Regions from separate parts of the Homo sapiens genome. Here region 2 is linked to region 1. The links come from fine-mapping of genetic effects on gene expression. A gene starts in region 1. The other region holds a variant in brackets. All regions are shown on one strand. Distances are from middle to middle.

The links. PIP is the estimated chance that this variant, and not a neighbour inherited with it, causes the effect. A credible set is the group of variants that fine-mapping cannot tell apart.
Region 2: its variant is the best candidate, but not a certain one, in a credible set for the expression of SLC38A5 in visceral fat (GTEx, PIP 0.55).

What each region holds. Positions count from the first base shown.
Region 1 is chrX:48,467,206-48,472,412 of GRCh38, reverse strand. It overlaps SLC38A5 (solute carrier family 38 member 5), which reads left to right and starts at 2,153. Exons shown (of 17, transcript NM_033518.4): 1 at 2,153-2,231; 2 at 2,977-3,078; 3 at 4,488-4,541; 4 at 4,628-4,703. The coding sequence starts at 4,489.
Region 2 is chrX:47,877,615-47,882,821 of GRCh38, reverse strand. All of the region lies in intron 2 of ZNF81 (zinc finger protein 81), which reads right to left. Among named protein-coding and RNA genes, the nearest start is that of ZNF81, 43 kb to the right of the region's middle. RefSeq lists a cis regulatory region at 1,496-2,036. The variant C/T (reference allele first, on the strand shown) is at 3,166.

The DNA of each region.
Region 1 (5,207 bases):
TGGGCAGGAGTGTGTGCGCACGTGTGTGTGAATATGCTGAGTGTATCTCACCTGCCCGTTCTCAGCCACAGCCACACGTATGTGAGCTGTGCCTGCGTCTTCCTATGTAACTTGCCTGGTGCTGCGTTCTGTCTATGGCCGCCTGCCAAACTTGTGCTTTTTTTTTTTTTTTTTTTTGAGATGGAGTCTCACTCTGTCGCTTGGGCCGGAGTGCAGTGGCGCGATCTTGGCTCACTGCAACCTCCGCCTTCCAGGTTCAAGCAATTCTCTTGCCTCAGCCTCCCGAGTAGCTGGGATTACAGGAACCCGCCACCACGCCCAGCTAATTTTTTTTGTATTTTTAGTAGAGACGGGGTTTCGCCACGTTGGCCAGGCTGGTCTCGAACTACTGACCTCATGATTCACTCACCTTGGCCTCCCAAAGTGCTGGGATTACAGGCATGAACCACTGCACCCGGCCCAACTCATACCTTTTTTTTTTTTTTTTTTTTGGCAACCGTGTGCATTGGTACTGTCTGTCGGTGCAGTTCATCTATATGTTGTTGTGTGTGTGTGTTGCTTGGGTGTTTGTCTCCTTTGTAATGGTCGTGGGTGACAAGTGTGTCAGAGTACTTGTCCCTCCTATATGTGTATCTATGCGCACGTATCTTTCTTTGTGTGTCTGCTGCTGTATTTGTGTCTCTTCTTAGCGAGTGGCTGCAGGTATGTGTGCCCTCGGGGTGTTTCTTCTGGTGCCATGGTATGAGTACTATCTGGTTCTCTTGTTTTTTCCTTGTGTAGCTTTCAGTGTGGTTTCTGGATTTTTTCTTTGCAACGATAGTAAGCGTACTCTGCATTCCTGTGCTTTGTGTTTGTGTGCAGGTATATGCTTTCCCTATATGTTTCTTTTCTGACTTGATTTGTGACTAGCTGTGTGTGTACACGGCTGTGTGCAGCCATTTGCTGAAATGCAGTTGTGTGTGTGTGTGTGTGTGAGAGAGAGAGAGAGAGGAGAGAGAGAGAGAAGGAGACTATGGCTTTTCTGTTTGTACAAAAATCATGTCAGCCTATGAGTGCCTCTCTCTGTGACTGGAGCTGTATGTGGTTACATGTGGTCACAAGTGCACATTCAAGTTCACATACACAGAGATATCATTTTAGGGCTTGAACCTGGAAGTTTGCCTCCAGGGTCATCTGAACCTGGATTCAGGTTCAGATCCAGGGCCATCTGAACCTGGATCGTGTGTGTGGGAAAGACCCAGGACCCACACACAATGTCATCAGCTGTGTGTAATTGTGTGCTCTGTGTGTGGCTGTGAATCTGTGTGTGTGATTTGCCTGTTGATTGTCTTTGGCATGGCTGTGGGTCCACGGGCGGTGAGGTTCAGGAGTCTCGAGTGTCTGGAAATCGGCACAAGCCTATCCCTGTGTTAGTCTGTGCTCTCTGTGAGCGGCTCTGAGCCTGTCGGTATTGATAGCTGTAAGACTATCGTCACTCTGTGTGGCCACGTGTGTGACTGTCCCATGAGCCATTGCTCTTAACGTGCAGTGGTGAGTCTGTGTGTGTTCATGTCTGTCAGTCTTTATTCTCTTGTGTGGCTGTGAGTCTTTGTGCACCTCTGTGAGTGATGGCGAGTTGGCCCCCGTATCTGAGCCCCTTGATGGGGCTGTGATGGGTCCTGTTGTGTAGCTGCGATTCCTGAGTGTGCAGGAGTCTCTCTCCCGCTGTGGGGAAGTAAACGCCCCATCCCTTGTCCTCCTCCAACTGTGGGTGGGGTGAGGGCATCTAGGCCAGCTTTGAAGCCCCAGCCAGCTCCTGGCCTTTCCGGGAATTCTGTGTTCCCTGTCGGGGGTGGGCAGGCGGGCGAGGGGCCCAGACAGAGGCCTCTTGTCCACCTGGGCTTCAAGCAGCCCAGTCGAGGTGGTCCCAGACCCCAAGTCCACCCTGCCTGACATCCTGTAGCGGACACGTGGCTTGCCTGGGACAGGCATGCCTGTCATATGCCTGGAGGGGAGTGAACAGACGGACTCCCATAGAAGACAGACGGACAGACAGATAGTGGGACTTCTCAGGGCTTGGACAAGCCCCACCCCACGCTTGGGGTGGGGTCCAGGACTACAGTGCCCGCCCAGTTTGCGGACAGTGTGAGTTCACAGTCCACATTCCCCACCCAGCCACAAATGCCCTCCCTGCCTCCCTCTGGGGGCCCCCAAGATCTAGGGTCCTCTCGTGCCTAGGCTGTCTGCCTGAGGTCTGCCTGGAATAGCCTGGCTACTACCCCTGCACCTGTTCCCCTGCTGTCCCCAGGCCTCTCTGCCTGAATCTGCCTCTCTCTGCCTCTTTTCTCCTGTCCCTCCAGGAGTCTCTCTGCCTCAACCACTCTCTCTGCCCCTTCATCTCTCTGAGCTGGTGTGTCTGGTCCTACCCTCTGTTTGGGGAGCTGTCTGGCTCTGTCCCCCACCTCTTGGCCAGCCTGTGTCTCCTGTCTATGACTGAGCCCAATTGCCTGTTGCCTTTCTGCAGGTGTTTCCACGAGCCTATCCCTACCCACCTGTTTGTTTCTGAGTCTGCCTGTGTGTCCCTTTCTCCCTGTCTCTGCCTGTCTTCCAAGCTCCCCTAGCATCCCCTCCTCCCGCCCATCTGTCTTTCTGTCCCTTCTGTGGTCTGTCTGTTCCTGTGCTGTTTCTCATGCCTGCTTTCTTTGTAACTTCAGTTCTCCTACTCTCTCTCTGTCTCCTCTCTGCACCTTTTTCTGCCATCCATCCCATCCTGCTGTCCGTCTGCTCTGTGAGTCCATCCCCTCTGTCTGCCTGTCACTCTCTCTAGCTGTGGGTCTACACCCTCAATCTTTCAGGCCATTTCCCCCACCATCAACACACAAACAAACCGCTGTCTCCCTCCAAGTGGGTCCAGATAGGGGGCGCCCCTTCTCCACCTCTTCCCCCGCCCAGGGCCAGAAGGAGGGAAACGAAATTAAAATTAACATTTCTTCTCAGGAAAAAAAAAAAAGTACCGCTCCAGAGCAGGAGCCTAGGCAGCCGAGAGGGTGCCCGAACCTGAGTCTGAGTTGCGGCCACTTCAGGAGCTGAGAGGAGCAGGTAGGTGAGGAGGGAGCGTGGGCTGCGGGGATGGTGTTCCTGGGGGCCTGAGATATGAGTAGGGGTCCTGGGAGGGGGCTCGGGGTTCCTTGGAGACATTTTAGCACTAGTGGGGAATGGAATGGCGTGTATGGGGAGGTCCTTTTTGTACCCTGATCCCAGGAAGTGAATTCAGGTGTGGGTGGGAGGCTCCGGAGGGTGCTGGTGGTGGGGGATGGGACTCCTTGAGACCCTCCCTGTCCCAGGAACGGGATTCAGGACTTGGGAAAAGGATTTCCTGAGCCAGTTTGAGCTCTAATGGGGACCTTGAATGGGGGTTTCTGAGATACCTCCTTCCCAAGGAGTAAGCGCGGGAGGGAGCTGGGGTTTCTTCAGAGACGCTGTACCTACAAGACAGGGGCTCCAGGCTCGGGTGGGGATTGCAGAGACACCCCCACCCCAGGAAACTCGGTAGGCCACGGGAGGGGGTCTTTGATGAAGGTCTCAGAAATAGCTCTTCCTCCGGAGGGAAATGAGGGCTCGGGCCAGGTTCCTGAGACACCCCACACCCCACACCTAGGAAGTTTCTCAAGTCTGGCAGTGTCTCCAAATTGACTTCTGCCAGAAGATGAGTGTTTAAGACTTGCTAGGGGCCCTGGAAAAGACCTCTAGGCCCTAGAATTGGGGTCAAATGGGAGTCCCTGGGTCATTTCTGTCCCTGGGAAGGGGCTCGGTTCGGGCACTTGTCTTTGGCTTCTAGTGAGGATATTCAGAGTCGTGGCAGAGAGCAGTTTGCAGCGTCTGGGGCAGGGGTCTCCGAGTCTGTCCCCAACCCTCAGCTCACTCAACAGGTTGCATTAGCTCTGGTCTCGGGCTTGGGGGCCCAGGCGGGAAGGAGGGGGGTGAGGGCATTAGGAGGGGTGGGGCAGCCAGGCCGACACGTGTCCCTGCAAGGAGTGAGCCGCCTGGCCACGCGGTGAGGGTGGAGGGAAGGAGAGGGGGTGGCGCGGGGGACCGGGGAATGAAAGACACAGATGGCAAGAGAGACAGCGTGAGTCTGGGGTCTGGGAGGAGAGGCTATCCCTTCTCCACGTGGTCGGCTCATCTGCGCTGGGGTCCGGCTCTCTCTGTAGCTTTCTGTCTCTCTCTTCCCCACTATTTCTCTCTCACTGGCTCTCTCTGTGTCTCTCTGAGTAACTAACTGTTGGCTTCTCTCCTTCTCTGATTTTTGTTCTTCTCTCTCTCTCATCTCTTTCTCTGTCAGTCTGCCTCCATTTCTATCCCTGTCTGTTCCTGCTCCCCTGCCTTGTCTCTTTCTCCGTCTTTCCATCGGTCTCTATGGGACTCCCCTCCCCCCTTCTTCAGCTCCCCTCACTTTGAAGCATGCTCGTTCCATCTCTGATCCCCCCACCCCATTTCTTTGCCCACAGGATGGAACTGCAGGATCCAAAGATGAATGGAGCCCTCCCTTCGGATGCTGTGGGGTGAGTCAGGGGTCCAAGGAGGTGGGCTCAGGGATCAGGGGTCAGGATTTCCCTCTTATCGGCCCCTATTTCCCTGCCCTATCCAGCTACAGGCAAGAACGTGAGGGCTTCCTGCCCAGTCGTGGTCCTGCTCCTGGGAGCAAGCCGGTCCAGTTCATGGATGTGAGTGGCCCCACAGGATCTGTCCTGGTGGCACCTTCCCCAGCTAATCTCCTCCCGCACTGCTCCCTCTTCCCCACTCCTCCTCCTCCCTGCTGTTCCCCTGCCCAGCTATCTCCCCAGCACAGCTACACACTACTTGGTCGCTCCCCTCTCCAGATACTCCTCTTCCCCAGATATGCCCTTTCCAGCTCTCTCCCTGGCCTTGTTTCTCCCCACCCGCTCTTCGGCCCAGTGACTGCCCTCCCTGGCTGCTCCCCTCCCGGCCTGCCTTTCTCCTCCAGCTGTTCTTCCTCCTCCAGCACTCCCCATCCTCAGCCTATCCCCACCCGCAGCGTCTCCCCTCCCCAGCTGTTTTACCTCTGGTGGCTGCTTCACCCTCCCCCGGTCCTCTCCACTTCCAGCTGCTCCCTCCAAAGTTTGTCCTAGTTTCCCCCTTCCCAGCTCTCCCCATTCGCAGCCTCTTCCATCTTCAACTCTTCTTCCCTGCTAGCCTCTTCCCTCCTC
Region 2 (5,207 bases), 590 kb after region 1:
ACAGAGTTTTGCCATGTTGGCGAGGCTGGTTTTGAACACCTGGCCTCAAGTGATCCGCCCACCTCAGCCTCCCAAAGTATTGGGATTACAGGCCTGAGCCACTGTGCCAGACCTTGTTTGACAATTTCTAATAAAGTTAAACATATACCTACCATATAATTTAGCAATTCCATTTCTTAGTAGTTACTAAAAAGAAATTAAAACATACATCCTCAGAAAACTTATATAAGAATGCCCATAGCAGGCTTGATTCATGATAATCAGAAACTAGACACATTCTAAATGTTCATCAACACATGAATGTCTACACAAATTGTGGTGTCTTCATACAATGGAATACTCAGCAACAAAAAAGGAAAAATCCACGGATAGACACAACAACCTGGAAGAATCTCAGAAGCATTATGCTATTTTACAAACAGAAGCCAAACACTGAAGTCAGACACAGATGGTTTGATTCCATTACAAAGACAGGACAATCAAGAATTTTAATCTACAGGGATTTAAAACCTTAACAATGGTTGTTGCCTCAAGGGGAGAATACTGACTGGTCAAGAGGGAACTTTCTATATTTTAATTTGCATGGATGTGTATATATATGTACATATATGTGTGTATATGGGTGTGTATATATATGTACATATATATATACACACACATATACTTGTCAAAACTCATCAAACTATACATTTAAGATCTGGGCAATTCAGTATATTTCAAATATGACTCAATTTCAAAAACCACAAAAAACAAAAGGGCATGTTAGAAACATATTCATGCCTATAATCCCAGCACTTTGGGAGGATCGCTTGAGGCCAGAAGCTTGAGACTAGGCTGGGCAACACAGTGAGACCCCACCTCTAAAAAAAAATTAAAAATTAGCCAGGCATGGTGATATAAGCCTGTAGTCCCAGTTGCCTGGAAGGCTGAGGAGGGAGGATCGTTTGAGCCCAGGAGTTTGAGGTTACAGTGATCTATGGATGCACCACTGCATTCCAAGCCTGAGTGACAGAGTGAGACCCTGACTCTAAAAATAAAATAAAATAAAATAAATATATTGAAATATATTCAGGGTACACCGTGGGCCCCAAATAGAAAACAGTCAATTCTACTGGGGATGTAAGTTTAGGTTCCATAAAGTTGGTGCAGTTTAAATTGGCTCTTGGGGAAAAAAATTAATTGAAAAGATAAGTGGGGGAAATACTTTCCAGAAGAGACAAGGAAAATAGTGTGGAAACAGGAAAATACATGGTGAATTAAGTAAAGAGCAAACAGCTCTGTAAAAAAGAGAGAATACTATTTATATGTCAGTCCTATGGTTTGAATATCTGTCCCCTCTGTCATAGGTAGGCAGCGACTATCTGGGGCCGGTGGCACAGGGGTAAGAAGAATTTACCAAGACAGTTGTAGGTGAAGAAAGGCAGATTTGTTAGAGAAAGTAGGAAAATATGTTGCAAGGGTGCAATGGGCAGACCAGCAAGAGAGGAGCTAACTGCAAGGAAAGAAAGGCTTGCTGGGGATTTTATAGAATGGTGTTTATGATGTATGCTGAAGAGGGCTTTGTGCAGTACTGATAACATCAGCTGAAGGCCTGGTAATAGTTGGGAGCAGGAAGATTGCGAGTTATTTGTGCAGGAGGGCTATGTGTCCTGGACCATGAAGAAAGGCAGACTTGTAGCTTATCTGCTTTATCTTTTTGTTTCCTTCAGTCCCACTAGCCCAACTCCTTTTCCCTAATTAGGACTCCACACCCTCCAAAATGGATTAGTCCATTCATAGATTAAGGGGTTATCACAGGAATGGAACTTGTGGCTTTCTAAGAAGAGGAAGAGAGACTGAGCTAGCACACTCAATCCCCTAGCCATGTGATACCCTGCACCACCTCAGGACCCTGCAGAGTCCCCACCAATGAGAAGGCCCTCACCAGATGTGGTCCCTTGACCTAGGACTTCTCAGCCTCCATAACTGTAAGAAATAAATTCCTTTTCTTTATAAATTACCCAGTTTCAGGTATTCTGTTATAAGCAACAGAAAATGGAAGTAAGACAATTAGGGAGGTGATTATGAGAAAAACATTCAGGTAAGTATGCTGGAGTCTGATCATGGAAATAGCATGAATTCTTTTAAGTAACAGTTTGCCAATGAAGTGTTTTATATATCAAGAAAGAGGTATTACTGAGTTTTATATTAAAATTATTATCCCACCCACAAGTACTTCATTTCAGGGTACACAAATAATTGATTTTGGAAATTTATTCTTTACAGAAGAATTCCAGCTGAGAAATGCTAATAAAAGCAATGATCACGAGGCCAGGTGCAGTGACTCATGCCTGTAATTCCAGCACTTTGGGAGGCCAAGGTGGGTAGATCGCTTCAGCCCAGGCATTTGAGACCAGCCTGGGCAACATGGCAAAAACCCATCTGTACAAAAAATACAAAAAATTAACCAGGCATGGTAGTGCACACCTGTAGTCCCAGCTACTTGGGAGGCTGAGGTGGGAGAATAACCTGAGCTTGGGAGGTCGAGGCTGCAATGAGCTGTGATGCATCACTGCACTCCAGCCTGGATGACAGAGTAAGACCCTGTCTCAAAAGAAAGCACTGATCATCAATGGCTGCTGAAACTACTGAGTGAAAGACTGCAGAAATTTTATAATGTATGGACCAGGCTGAGAACCCCTGAACACACAGACATATTTGGTATTATGTGCCTCCTGGAGGGATGAATTAGCAAGTGTGTTCAACACCACCTATGAAGTATTCTTGCCCAAAAAAATTAAATCTGAATTGATCAAGCCTCTAGATTCATCAGTTCATATTAATATAAAGATACAGGAACACGTTAAATAACACCACAAGAATACAATTAGCAAATTCCAAAATGTGGGACATAGCACAGGGCAAATGGCCCAGTTTCTTCAACAAATAAATAGCAAGGAGAAAAACAAGAGAGAGGAGAATCTGGGAGATTTGCCATAGATTAAAAGGGACTTGAGAGGCTGTTGGGAGATGGCTCTCCACAGGTCTCTGCACATCTTGAAAGCAGACTCACTGACTGCCTTTTTTCCAACTTATCTTTTCAAGCCTGTTAATACAGCAAGCAGCCCTGGAAGACAGAGTCTCCCTCCAGAACAAAGGGCAGGTTATACTAGAAATTATACTAAA[C/T]GTAATTTCTCCCTTCAGGACAAAGGAGAGGCAGATTTATTGCCCATTATAAAAGATCTGGAGTCCATAAACTTAGGCTTTCTCTCATATAATGGAACCCACTGTATGTGCAGGTATCATCTAGCCCTCTGCATTGCCTTGTGGAAACTGAGGCTTAGAGAAGCAGCACAACTGCTAACACTCCGGCTACCACAAGTATTATAAAGTCCTTTATCTCTTACTGAGGAGTCTTGTATTTTTTGCCAGCATCCATGATACTGTGCTGGGTTTTTATCTTGCAAGTAGGGTAATATCTCAGACTCTTCACAGTTCTTGAAGTTCTGGTGATTAGGATTGGCCACTCACAGAGATGTAGCTTTCTGGAAAAGGAAAGATGAGGGCCTTGTCGACCCCTGGAAGGAAAAAATAATCCCCCAAACTCCCTGCCATGGATGTCCATCGTCTAATCCCTGGAACCTGTGAATATATTATACTACATAGCAAAAGGAAATTAAGGTTGCATACGGTATTAAGGTTTTAAATCAGCAGACCTAAAATACTGAAATTATCATGTATCATCTAGGTGGGGCCAATGTAGCCACAAGGATCCTTAAAAGAAGAAGAGTGAGGAAGAAGAGAAGGTTAGAGTGACCCAATGTGAGAAGAACTGGACTCACTGTTGCTGGCTTTGAAGATGGAGGAAGCAGCCACAAGCCAAGGAATATGGGTGGCCTCTAGAGGCTGGAAAGGGCAAAGAAATGGAATTTTCCTTAGAGCCTTGAGGAAGGAATCAGCCTTGCCATCTTGATTAATTTAGACCAGTGAGAACCATTTTGGACTTCTGAACTACAGAACTATAGGATAACAAACTTCTGTTATTTTAAGCCACCAAGTTCGTGGCAATTTGTTACAGCAGTGATAGAAAACTAATATATGGGGCAATTAAGAGGATTTAAGGTGAATCAGCAGTGAATATGTTGACTAAATTGTATGGTCAACTGTGCAATAAATGGTCCTCCACTTTATTGCTTGTCATTGAGGAGGAACTGGGGAAATTCTTACACACTAAGTGCCAGGAAGTAGGTTTAAAGAGTCTCCTAGTTATTCCAAACTCTCATCCAGGTGGAGGACTTCCTCACCAATGTGATGGTCAGTCTCAGGTTCCCCCCAATCGGGGGATGTCATTGAGGGGAATGCCTGATACAGAGGTCTGGGCATACTGAAAACATGAGAGGTTCACTAGGTTGAGTCCTGAGCAGCTGCTGCATTGCTTGAAACTGAAAGTAAATGGGAAGACTTGCTTACTGGCATGGCGCCGCACCATCTCACTCCATGCCTGGTCCCTCTGTCCCCTTCTACCCTTAGTAACAACCAGTATTGAGAATCATTGGTGGGAGGGGTGGAGGTGCAGTTCCCAACCCTTTTGCAGACAATAGTTACAGAAAAGAGCATCTACACTCAAGACAAAAAGAGGAAAATTCATGACTGGTAGGCACAGAAACCAGGAAAATGGTCAGAACTTTGGCTGGTCTGGTTGCACGACAGGCAGGAGGGGATGTAAAGTTTGTTAAGGAAGAATGGCAACAGCTGGGATGTTCACGGCTCGGCCCCTCCTACAGTCGATCATGCCAACCTTAGAGCCCTTCAGAAGCAACAGGAAAAGGTCTCAGAGGTTTTTTGCAGTAGATCCTGGCTGCTGTTATTAGGCCTATAGTTAGCCCTCTTGGTAAGCTGCCTGAGACGAACTCTTGTGGGAAATCACAGATGAGGCATTGACTAGCATTGGGCTCTTACTGCCCCGTATTGGATCTATAATGCTAGGAAATGAGAAACTGACCCAAAGAATTCAAGATTTTTTTAGGTCAGCTCACACTGTCCTGGAAAACTCCCCTCGTTTTTATGTTTAAAACTAAGCAACAACTTAAGGTATGCTATCAGGAAAATGAGCAGCAAATGTGCCAGCTTAAAATGGACATCTTAAAAATAAGAAGTTGCTACTGTGCTAGTAAAGCCTGAGTTCACCAGTGGGCATGACCAGAAACCAATGTGGCCATGGCTGTAGA